Linked DNA regions of Homo sapiens: regions 2 and 3 are each reported to be linked to region 1. The links are microRNA targets in miRTarBase. Many come from high-throughput screens and were not tested one by one. Region 1 holds a microRNA gene; each other region holds the end of a gene's coding sequence. Distances are between the middles of the regions.

Evidence for each region. The annotated mature microRNA hsa-miR-3671 reads AUCAAAUAAGGACUAGUCUGCA and lies in region 1 at 1,933-1,954, opposite strand. An mRNA with a match to its seed (bases 2 to 7 or 8) in the 3' UTR can be bound and repressed. Matches are read on the target gene's strand: a 7mer-m8 pairs with bases 2 to 8, a 7mer-A1 pairs with bases 2 to 7 and ends in A, and an 8mer does both.
Region 2: the mRNA of TNFRSF9 is a reported target of hsa-miR-3671. The part of its 3' UTR that is shown has no 7-base or 8-base seed match.
Region 3: the mRNA of GOLGA6L4 is a reported target of hsa-miR-3671. Seed matches in the 3' UTR shown: 7mer-A1 at 3,524-3,530, 7mer-m8 at 2,406-2,412, 7mer-A1 at 2,206-2,212 and 7mer-A1 at 1,345-1,351.

The regions. Positions count from the first base shown.
Region 1 is chr1:65,055,830-65,060,515 of GRCh38, forward strand. It overlaps MIR3671 (microRNA 3671), which reads right to left and starts at 2,013; the gene lies at 1,926-2,013. It overlaps MIR101-1 (microRNA 101-1), which reads right to left and starts at 2,679; the gene lies at 2,605-2,679. It also overlaps a transcript of JAK1 not described here.
Region 2 is chr1:7,917,076-7,921,075 of GRCh38, forward strand. TNFRSF9 (TNF receptor superfamily member 9) reads right to left here. Exons shown (of 8, transcript NM_001561.6): 8 at 1-3,848. The coding sequence ends at 3,760. Among named protein-coding and RNA genes, the nearest start is that of TNFRSF9, 22 kb to the right of the region's middle.
Region 3 is chr15:84,242,196-84,246,195 of GRCh38, reverse strand. GOLGA6L4 (golgin A6 family like 4) reads right to left here. Exons shown (of 9, transcript NM_001267536.3): 8 at 3,947-4,000; 9 at 838-3,736. The coding sequence ends at 3,604. Among named protein-coding and RNA genes, the nearest start is that of GOLGA6L4, 8.4 kb to the right of the region's middle.

The sequences.
Region 1 (4,686 bases):
GTAGTGCAGGGTGACTGCAAATGACACCCAACACTCAGTTCTTCAACACCCCACAGGCCTGGTTGTAGATTTTGAGGTCAAGGTTGGGTAAGTATAAAACCCAATGAATTTTTATAAAACTAGTAACGGGGAAAACAGGAAGATCAGGGAAGGTGGTGAAATCTTCACCAAGGCCAATGATTGCACAACACATAACTTCTTGAAGCACTTTTTTCCACCTGCTCAAACACTAAACATAAGGAGTGTTTCAAATTACTTGAGGATTCACCAATCCCTAACTTTCCCTTCCTAAAAGTTCTTCCAGAGTTTCTGTCAGAAATTCCTTTTAAGAAAACTCCAAAGAATTTCAGGAGTGGTAGCATAATAACTGGGGAGACCCCTCTCTCTAATTAATCAAAAACGTAGTGTAGCTTATATAGCTTAGAGAAATTGTGGATCTATGAGGACATGTGAAGGTACTGGGCTATAATGTGGTCAATGTGTCTGAAAAAATAACAGTTCTGGGCCAACCAAGTGTGGCTCAAGGGATCACTACTAAGAATGGTTCCTCTTTGGGTAGAGCAGAGGGAAGAGACACTAAAGGGAACTGCAATCACCAGCAAAGGAACACAGTGACCATCAATGTCTGAGGACTGGCACAATGAAGGATAAGAAAGAACCTCTCTGTACGAGGCCTACTCCCTTTCAGTTCCCTTTCTTCCCCATTGTGTCCCAGTGGAGGACCTGATAATACACCTGACCCATATCTAAGACATGCAGTTGGCAGGGCTGATAGTAGGTAAGGTTCACAGTATGTTAAAAAGTCACACGAGGCCGGGTGCAGTGGCTCAATGCCTGTAATCTCAGCACTTTGGGAGGCTGAGGGTAGGAGAATCACTTGAGGACAGGAGTTTGAAACCAGTTTGGGCAACATGGTGAAACACCATCTCTACCAAAAATACAAAATTACATGGGCATGGTGGTGCACACCTGTAATCCCAGCTACTCGGCAGGCTGAGGCATAAGGATCACTTGACCCCGGGAGGCAGAGGTTGCAGTGAACCAAGACTGAGCTACTGCACTCCAGCCTGACCGCAGACTGAGACTCTTTCTTTAAAAAAAAAAAAAAAAAAAAAAGTCACAAATGGTTTTTCTCTCCCTGGCCCCTCTTCTCTCTGTGGTAGGTAGGTTCAAATTACAGCCTAACCTCAGCCATCTCTGTTCTCTTTGCTCAAGCATATGGGTCACTGCTTTGGGTTCCTACACCAGTCAGACATCCACAGGCTCCCAGATACAGACATGAGCCTAGGATGAGGTAATATACCCGATTAGGCTCTGAGCCTAAAACACGTTCCATGAAATTACCTGAGCCTTCCTTGCACAGTACTGTGATCTAAGATCTAACACATAATCAAGTCATGCACTTTGTTTCTTATTTGCTATTGTTACATGTGTACAGTGTCCTTAGGAGTCTACAGGGAAGAGGGATAATTGGCAGAGATTGGCATTGGCAGAATCCTGGGTTCTCCAATAACCACCTTTCACCCCCAGCAGTACTCTCTAGAGTAAGATGGAGGTTGAAGATGTGTGCTGTTAAATTTCCTAATCCTGGCTGGGTATAGTGGCTCATGCCTGTAATCCCAGCACTTTGGGAGGCTGAGGTGGGAGAATCAATTAAGCTCAGGAGGTCAAGACCAGCCTTGGCAACATAGTGAACTCCTGTCTCTACTAAAAATTTGCAGGTGGGTGGCCTGAGCCTGTAGTCTCAGACTCGGGAGGTTGAGGTGGGAGGATTGCTTGAGCCTGGGAGATCAAGGTTGAAGTAAGCTATGATCATGCCACTGCACTCCCGTGTGGGCAACAAAAAAAAAATTTCCTAGTCTTTCATGCACGTGATGCTGGCTTGGTGTTTACAGCTTCGTATTCCTGAAATCGATATGTGCCAGATATCACTGCAGACTAGTCCTTATTTGATAGAAATAAAATAATTTACATTTTATTTTCATGTAAATGTGACAGCAGCAGCAATAACATAGGCATTCAGTAAATATTCTTTTGAATTAGGCCAGATCCTAAATATCCTGAAAGAAACATGACATGTCACTATCTACTCCTTCAAGACAAAGATATACTTTTTTTCTTTCTTCACTTCAGTAAGCTGGTCTACAATGATGGACTTTTATTTATGCAACAATTTCAATACTGTTCAACATATTGGGCTTTTTTTTTCTCCCTGTAAGTAGAATCTGATTTTGAAATCTAGTAGTGTACTGACAAGTGCCAAGCTGTTCTAATTAGGTTACCTTTCACATTTATAAAAATGGTACGAAGTTCTCTGAATACCATTCCAGAAATACTAATTCATACTTACCTATTTTCAGTCTCCTAAAGGTTCCAAAGATCTTAATATATGTTCACTCAGCACAACATGGCTGCACCAACAACTACCCCATGTTACAAAACAAGGCAAAGAGAAGCAGAATAACTCTCCCTATGCCCCGGGAGAAGTATGACAGAGGTGCAGGGTAAGAGGGTTTCTGGGTCCCAGCCACCTGTTTCACATTCCTCTTTCACCTTCTTTCTTCCTGGGTACGGTGAGGCTCCTCTGATGGAAGGTAAGATGGCTGCCATCCTTCAGTTATCACAGTACTGTACCTTTAGAATAGACAGCATCAGCACTGTGATAACTGAGCCAGGGCAGCCTGTCAGTCACTGTGTCGGTCAACGGCATCCTTTCTGGTGGCTGCATTACTCTCTCTGAAGGCTCCCCATGAAGTGAAGGACTAAAAGATCACCTTCTGGTTGGAGACGTGAGGAGGCAGAAGAAAAAGAAGGATCAGAGCCCAGCAAGTGGTGAGGCTGAAATATTAAAAGGCCCAGTTGAATTAAATTAGAATGAAAGATGAACACATGACTTATCCATATTAATGAGGATGAACAACTGCATGATTAGGTTTTCACTCTAATACATCAAATATGCAGTAAGCTTCCAGCATATTTCACAGCTTATCTCTTCCATGCATGGATTCACTGACTGTGCCTCCCTGACCTCAATCATTGATTTTTCATATATATACCGAGGAACTACTACGTTCTAAAGCCCTCTTCTAGATGTTCAGGAAATAAAGATAACTAAGACATGATTCCTGTCTTCAAAGTGCTCATAACCAAACATGACAATAATACTTCATATCTGCCAAACATTCAAAACTGCTCTATATGTTTTCTCATTTGGTTTTCACAAGACGCTATGGGGCTGGCAATGAATTATTCATTAATTCATCAAAAAAGGATTCTGGAAATAGATTAGATATTATTACCCCATTTTATAGGCAGAAAAAAAAAAAAAAAACTTAGGTGATTTGCCAGAGATCATATATTGCTAAGTTATGGCGAACCCATGTCCAGAACCATGTCAAATGAGTGAACACAGTGCTTTGTTTTCTCTACCCTACCCTAGCTGTCCAACTCCATCAACTGGATATTCAGTTTACACAAACAAAAGGATTTCTAAAAACATTTACTTTTTGTTTTAGTTTTCTCAGTAACTGAGATCATGAAGCAGAAGCTAGTGGGGCTTTATAATTAAGAAGAAAAATGCACATTAGCAAAAATGACTTTCATTCCTCTTGCTCTGAGTGCTAAGAATGTACTCAAATTAGTAACATTGATATTTTTCACTATAGTTTATGTCAATTCTATACCTATGGTGATACTGACAACCTTCAGAATACCTTTTTAAAAAGTAATAATAACATATACACATCACTTGCTTTTAAATTATCTGTACCTTTGAGACGTACTCTGAAGTCATTTTAGGGATGATTCTTCCTTTTAATAAAAAGTACAAAAGATTCTGAAATTGGAATTCAGGCATCAGAATATCAACTTATTAAAACCATGATTCACTTGGGTTTTTTCCATGTCATAAGGTTTCAAGTTATTTCAATATGAGTGGAACTTGACAGATATTTGAAAAATAATTATGTTTTCATTAGGCATTTGCTCAATTTCAAAGACTCATTATATGCATATTAGATATTAGCACTGTACTTCAAATAAGTCAGGTAGATGAATCAATTCTTTAGATCAGCAGAAGTCAGAAAATAAAAGTACAGTGAATCTAACTCAACTATTAACTTTACGTACTATGAAAATGACCTTATCTTCAGAAAAGCAACATCCAATGAAACAATCCACCTACACACAAATTAAAAACAACATTGCCTAAAATGCAAAAATATCTAAAAATTAAGGAGGTCATCATCTAGGTCTTAGCCAACTGTAATACAGAGTTGAAACACGAGAGGGCAACGAAGATTAAAGAAAAAAAAAAAATCACAGTTGGATCCCATAACCTAAGGTTCTTGGAAATAGTTGCACATTTTTACCCGAATTATAAACATCTGCTACGTGAACAAAGATACTGTGATTATTTTAGAGTAAAATTTTAGATAGCTGTTCCACGAAAAAGGATAAGATTATCAACTAATATTTCTTGACCACAATTCTGTCAGCTTTGGAAAACTGAATACTTACCCTGAAACACTGAAGGTTGGGTAAGTATGGAGACAAATAAATAATCCTGACATATTTGTAGTTATTAGACTGTTCTTCACCAAAATATTAGTGTGATTCAATGTCTAAATATGAAGTATAAAGACGAAGGAAGTGTACTGCAAAGTTGAAATTCACTCTACTAGCCAT
Region 2 (4,000 bases), 57 Mb from region 1:
CATGCCACCATGCCTGACTAATTTTTGTATTTTTTAGTAGAGATGGGGTTTCACCATGTTGGCCAGGCTGTCTCAAAACTCCTGACCTCAGGTGATCCATCCGCGTCGGCCTCCCAAAGTGCTGGGATTACAGGCGTGAGCCACCGTGCCTGACCTAGCTAAGACACTTCTGAAGTAGAAAAAGAAGGTGGAGGGAGATGTCCTACCGGATATCGAGAGCTGTTACAAAGCTATTGTAATAAACACAGTGTGATACTGGCACAGGATAGACAAATTGACAATGGAACAGAACAGGGAGCCCAGAAGCAGACCCATGGCCCTATGGAAACTTGATGGATGGTAGGTGAGATTGCAGACCCGCAGGAGAAAGACGACGTATTGAATACATGGCGCAGGGACCAGTGGTTACCTACATGCAAGACATGGAATTGGATCACTACCTCCCAACAGGCACAAAAGCCAGTTCCTGATACATTAGACTTCAAGATGAAAGACAAAACTTAAAACTTTTGGAATAAAATGTGGGCAAACCTCTTTATAGTATTGGGCAGAAAAGGATTTCTTTAGCCAGGCAAGAAAAAATGTTAACCATATGAGAAAACAGTTATAAATTTAACCAAATCAAATGAAGAACTTTTTGCTTATTACCAGAAAGACAAAGAAAGACACCATTAATTAGAGAAAAACAGGAGGGGCGCGGTGGCTCATGTCTGCAATTCCAGCACTTTGGAAGGCTGAGGTGGGAGGATCACTTGAGCTCAGGAGTTCAAGACCAGCCTGGGCAACATAATGAAACCTCAGAAACCTCACCTCTGCTAAAAATAAAAATAAAAAAGAATTTTATAAAAAATTTTAAAAAGGGAAAAATAAATTACAAAGGATATATATATATATATATATAGATATAGATAGATAGATAGATAGATAGGCAGAATTTCACTCTTGTCACCCAGTCTGGAGTGCAATGGCACAATCTTGGCTCGCTGCAACCTCTGCCTCCTGGGTTCAAGCGATTCTTCTGCCACAGCCTCTGGAGCAGCTGGGGTTACAGGCACCCGCCACCATACCCAGCTAAGTTTTGTACATGTTTAGTAGAGATGGGGTTTCACTGTGTTGGCCAGGCTGATCTTGAACTCTTGACCTCAGATGATCCACCCACCTCAGCCCCGCAAAGTGCTGGGATTACAGGTGTGAGCTACCGTGCCTGGCCACAAAGAAGATATTTTTTAACACATATAACTGACCAAAGATTATTATCTAGAATACATAAAGACCTTTTAGGAATCAGGACAAACAACCACATTTGGGTTTGTTTGTTTCTGAGAAAAGGTTTTTCTCTGTTGCCCAGGCTGAAGTGTAGTGATGCGGTCCCAGCTCACTGCAACCTCTGCCTCCCAGGCTCAAAGCGAACCTACTGAGTAGCTGGGACTTCAGGTGCACACCACCACACCCGGCTAATTTTTGTATTTTTTGTAAAGACAGGGTTTCGCCATGTTGCCAAGGCTGGTCTCGAACTCCTGGGCTCAAGCGATCTGCCCACCTTGGCCTCCCAAAGAGCTGGGACTACAGGCATGAGCCACTGCACCCGGCCCCAAGTTTTTTTGCAAATGGGCAAAAAAGCATGAGCAAGCATTTTATTTAAAAAAATAAACACAAATGGTATATAAATATTTGACAAGGTGCTCATCAGTAACCAAGCAAATGCAAACTAAGACCACAGTGAGATCTCATTCTATACCCACTGGCTTGGCAAAATTAAGGGCACCTGATAGTACCAGAGGGTAGCAAGGATGTGGATCAATGGGATACTTACATGACACTTATATGACTGACGGGAGTACATTAGAACAGCCACTTTGAAAAGCAATTTGGTACTGCAGTAGACTATTGTTCAGAAATATCTTCTCCTCACCCCTATTTACAGAATATACTTTTCTGCCCTATTGATGCCTGGCTTGGCTGCAGGATTTGCTCTAAAGGTTATAGTAGAACCAACTAAATAGGAGCAGAAGTGACAGATACCCATTTGCCATGCGATGGCCAATGTTCCAAATAGAAGCTGCTCCCTCCACCTAAATCCCAGAGTAAAATAACATGGGACAGAGGCACGCAAGCTTGCAATAGGCATGTCATACAAAAGTGTAAGAAATGGCCAGGCATGGTGGCTCATGCCTGTAATCCCAGCACTTTGGGAGGCAGAGGTGGGCAGATCACCTGAGGTCAGGAGTTTGAGACCAGCCTGGACAACATGGTGAAACCCCGTCTCTACTAAAAATATAAAAATTAGCCAGGCGTGGTGGCACATACCTGTAGTCCCAGCTACTTAGGAGGCTGAGGCAGGGAGATCACTTGAAACTGGGAGGCGGTGATCCAAGATTGTACCACTGTACTCCAGCCTGGGAGACAGAGTGAGACACTGTCTCAAAAAAAAATAAAATGAATAAAATTTAAAAAGCTATCCTTAGATCATAAGCCAAACAATGGCAGGCATGCCAGGTTTGCACCTGTAATCCCAGCTACTTGGGAGACTGAGGCGGGTGGATCACTTGAGCCCAGGAGTTTAAGGCTAAAGTGTGCTATGATTGTGCCTGTGAATAGCCACTCCATTCCAGCCTGGGCAACAGAGCAAGACTGTCTCAAGCAAACCAACAGACAAACAAAGGCAAATGGTGCACCAGGTTTGGCCATGGGAGTTTGGCGGCCCCCACTCTAGTGCTGTGGTAGGACAATGAGCTCACAGGTGTTAATTTTCTCACTGTACTTCATACCTATCATATGCAGTTCATTTATTGGCTTTGGTATAAAATATTATGTTAAAAGTTAAGAATTTTTAGAATGTAACCTGGCTTAAAAGGGAGCAGGACAAAGGCAGAAGGTGTGAGGATGGAGAAGACCATAGGATATACAGACACTTGAACTCTTTCCAAAACTTCCTCCAGGCCTGAGGTTTTTTGTCCTTGACCCTAAACTCAGGCACTCTGCTCATACTCCCCCCTGACGGTGGAGCATGTCGTGTTACATGACAGAACCCACGGAAACTTTAGTCGGGTACTTACTGCACCTCGTGGCTTATTGTCATATGTCATATTAGCACCAAAAAACAAACCTGCATTGATTTTGATTATAATTATAGTTGGACCACTGGACTATGTAATTGAATTTAAACTATAATTTTCTTTGGATTTCAAAAAAACTAGCTCAAACCTGTTAAGTGGTATCTAGAAAATGCTTTTTTTTTTTTTTTTTTATCACCAGCTCTGTCCTCATCTGTCTGTTCTGTTAAAAGTGGTGCATTATTTTGGCCGGGCCTGGCAGTTCATGTCTGTAATCCCAGCACTTTGGGAGGCCAAAGTGAACCTAGGAGTTTGAGACCAGCCTGTACAACATGGTGAAATGCCATCTTTACCAAACAAAAAACAAAAAAGTTAGTCAGGTGTGGTGGCCCTTCCTTGTAGTTCCAGCTACTCAGGAGACTGAGGCAGGAGGATCACTTGAGCTCCCAGAGGTCAAGGCTGCAGAGAGCCATGGTGGTGCCACTGCACTCCAGCCTGGGTGACAGAGTGAGACCCTGTCAAAAAAAAAAAAAAAGTGGTGCATTTTTAAAGGCCAACTCATTGGCATTTAGAAAAGAACGTGTGTTGGGGGAATCCTGGGTATTATGTAGGATGGTGTTCTTGCTTTTGAAAGCTGTGATAGCGGATGACTCATATTTCCTTGCTTCTTTTCAAGAAAGTCCCAACAGCCCTATTGACTTCCATTTCACAGTTCACATCCTCCTTCTTCTTCTTCTGGAAATCGGCAGCTACAGCCATCTTCCTCTTGAGTAGTTTGTACTGGTCTCATAAATGCTAAAAAAAAAATTTTAAGATACGTATATTTTGTTGTCTATTTGAATCATTTAACACTTATTTTCCATAAATTATAGCTGCAGAACATCTCTAAGCAGCAAACATTCTCCCCTTTAATTTTAACAAACTCAGCCAGGCGTGGTGGCTCATGC
Region 3 (4,000 bases), not on the chromosome of region 1:
TAAGTTTCCCAGCCGCGAATAATTATAAGAACCTCTTCCTCATATGCCAGCTGCAACCTCCGCTAGGTACGATACAGAATGTTACACAGCTACAGTATGTACACGGGGGAAGGGGGGCCACCCCCAGCAGCCTGTGCCCTGGCCTGGTCTACAGTTAACTCCACTGTCCCGCCTCAGCTGCCTCTCTGAGTAAGAAGATGGGAGCCCCCCTGAGGGAAAAGTTGCTTTGGTGAGAGTAAGAAGGCCGTCAGACCTCCTCCAAACAAACCAACTCCACCAACCTCTGGCTCTTAAATAACAAACATCATCATCCAGAAATGTAAGGACTCAGCCTTGGTCAAGGTGGTAAAGGGTCTGTTTGTCTCCCTCCATTAGACAAGGGTCTTGTCTTGCTACCCTAATGGTAAAGGGCTGACTGGGGAGGGGTTGTAGGGACATGGTGGGGGTGAAGACTCCAGACCCACTTCTCCAGGCTTATGCTGACAGGGGCCTGCTTTTATTTATTTTTATTTTTATCCCATGACTTTTTTTAAATCCTGTAACTAATTTTTCATAACTTTTTAAAATAACTTTTCATAAAACTTTTTTTTTACTTTTTTTCCACAACTTTTTTTTGCCACTTTTCCACAGTATTTTTTTATCCTGTAACTTTTTCATCCCACAACTTTAATTTCTGTTAACTTTTTTAGTTTGTGTTCTTTTAATAAACACACTTACATAGTTACAATTTTGTAAGAATAAAAACCGATTACCTCATGCCAAGCATGCCGAGAATTTGCAGAGTCTCAATACCCAATACTATAGTTTTCAAGACACACAAAATTTTTAGGCAAAACAGCACCTTGAAACAATTTAATAATGTATTACATTACAGTAGCATCACAGAAGCAGTCAATAATGCCACTTTAGACAAAAATCAGTATTTCCATTATGCATTCTGTGTATAAGAATTCATAAATCGGTAAAAGTCATTCTAAGAAAACTTGGCAAATACAGCTTTGGACTGGAATTGGCATTTCTTTGTCTACTTTTCCTTCCCCTAGATTCTTTGTTTTAAACTACAGTATTCATATTTTAAAATGTTTTAAATTATTTTAAGACGTTAATATAGCAGTTACATTTTTGAATAGTTATTTGAAAGTGACTGTAAGATAAAGTTTTAGAGAATCTATTATGGATAGGGTTGATTTACATTTTCACATTTTCTAAAAATCAGCTTTGGTTTTAGAACTGATTGTTTTTCATTTTGGGAAAACCTACCAGGTTTAATCAATTACTTTAAAAATAATTATCATATTTTGCAGTCTTTAAATAGGTGTTTTGATTCTTTACTCCCTAGAGAAATTCAAATTTATTCAGTTGAAGTCACATTTTAAAATTCTATGTTCCTGCTGAACTCTAACCTTCTAATGTTGCCTTCTAAGCAAATTAAAGGCTGCCTTATACTGAATGAGGTAGAGAACAAATACTTGGCTGAATGAGGTACTGCAAAAGACTGCATGCACTTTGAAGAAAGACTTGAGTTATTGTCATAGGATTTCCATTCTCTTTAGCTTTTTCTTAAACATATGACAAAATACCTACACAAAGAGTCGTATTTGAATTAATATAGTATATTTATTTTTCAGACTGACATTCATCTTAAATATGCCAGTATGTGATTTAATCCACAGGTACCTGATGAACACATTATTGTCAGATTGGTTACAGTTGCTAAACGCTATCTGAAGGTCATTCCTATTCATTTATACGTGTCAGGGTAAAAGTGAAGCGATTTGAACTATAAAAATACCTTTGAAATAATTTATCAATGTATTAGATAAGCTCAGTTTCAGAATGATAAACAAAAACTGTTAGACCAAATAACGTGGCTAATTAACAGTGGTACGATTTCTAGCCCGAGGGTTTAAAATGGAGTTAAAGTAAGTGTCTTTAAACTGAACTCAAAGAATGCAAAAGCGGCAAGTTCAGACAAGGCAAGAACAGGACCTTTAGTCCATTTTAAGCCATAAATATTACACAAAATATGCCTCTAACTGAAACTGAGAGGTATAAAAACATATTTCACTCTTCGTAAAGAACTTTGTGAGGAAATATAACTCTGTGATTGTATAGACACTTTCCTCATGACACTTTGACAGTCACAAACAGTAGATTGCGCTGCAGTTTGTAAACATTTTACGTTGCATAAACTGCTCCTTGATTTTCAAATGTAGTATAATACTGTCTACTAAAACTCCTTTTTGTTTCAACTAAGTACTCTCACATATATTAGTTTATAATAATGTTTGTTATTATTTTTAAAGTGTTCTCCATTCAAGGAAAAGAAGTAAATTCCTATGTCAGATGGTTGAAGACTAGCTATTAGCCAGAGAGGTCTAGATGGTAAAATCCATCTTCTAGCCTCAAATAAGCTCCATGAACACAGAGGAATGCCAGGTGTCACACAGCTTTCCTTCACTCGAATTCATTCTTGACTAGAGCCTGTATATGCCTGTTCCAGGGGCATTTAAACTCTTAAAGGATTTCTTCTGATCTTTACTAAATACATTAAGGAGAACGCCAACCAGTGCCCTTTTGTGTACTGGGACATGTAGTCATGTGATTAAAACAGGGAACATGAACGCTGACTTTAAAATGTATTGTAGATATAAATGCTCTCAGCTAGAAAAGGTTTTCCACATCCACAGTCATGATGGGAGCCTTTCATTCCTCAGAAATAATCCCTTTTCAGGTCATCAAAAAAGAGTACAACTGCCACAGCTCATGAGGCAGTATCTTCATGAGCCCAGAGCACATACAAATCCTAAGGGAACTACCGTAGTACAGCGCTCATTCTTGGCACCGGAACAAATGAAACATATTCTATCCTGCACACACCTGCCAAAGCAGGCCACTTTCCTCTTCTGGGAGATTTAAAAACCTCCCCAAAATGTTATTACTCCCATCCCCAATACACAGAAAAAGGGGGAAAGGCTGTTTCCAGTGCTCCACCTTTAAACAACTGTAAATGTCAGTACTCACAGTGGCATATTACAAAGTAATAGACCGCGCACTTGAGGGCAAACTGCATATTGAGCTAATGAAGAGCTCACTGTGATTAGGATTCGATCAAACATAACAGCAGAACATAAGGAAATTTTATCTGAATTCCGTAATGAATATACAGGCTGTACTAACATTCAAAAAGCATGGCAGCCTATCCCAAACCAGCAAGAACAGTTGTGTGCATACAGTGGGTCTTTGTGTGTTTGAACTCCCACCACATAAGGGCAAACTCGATATGCATGCTAACGTCCTATAATTATCAAATTAAAAAAATGCTAAAAGATGCCAGAGTGAACATGAGAGAAACACCCACTCTCATTTAACTTTTTACAAATAAATTTAAATTATAAATTAGAAACACAAATAAATTTAAACTATAAATTAGAAACACAAATAAATTTAAACTATAAATTAGAAACACAAATAAATTTAAACTATAAATTAGAAACACAAATAAACATAAGTGGCTCTAACATTCAAATGAAGTAAATGAATTGTGTAGGATATTAACCCCTTAAATGTTTTGTTTTTTTTTTTCAATTCCTTGACCCGCTCTTAGATGATGGTGATGTTTAGCTCCCTGTTCTCCGCAGCCCGAAAAGAATGGCATGCAGCCTCTCCTGCTCCTCCTGCCGCCTCTCCTGTACCAACAGCTTCTCCACTCAAGCCTGGGTGCTCCTGGGGAGTCCTGCATTAGAGGAAGCAGCTGCTGGATCTGCTGTGCAGTGGGGTTGTCATGGGGGAGAACCCTCCCTGTCCTCTCCCGGTGCAGCCTCCATGCTATCAGTGAGGCTCAGCCCACTAAGATCTTCAGAGAGAGGGAGGGGGGTGGGAATCTGGGCACAGTGCGAGCCTCCCCTGCTCCTGCCTGCCCACCCCGCCTGAGGGCTCTACTCACCACCCTGCTTGTCCGCACATCCAAGCTCCTTGTGGGACTGGGGCTCCAGCTACT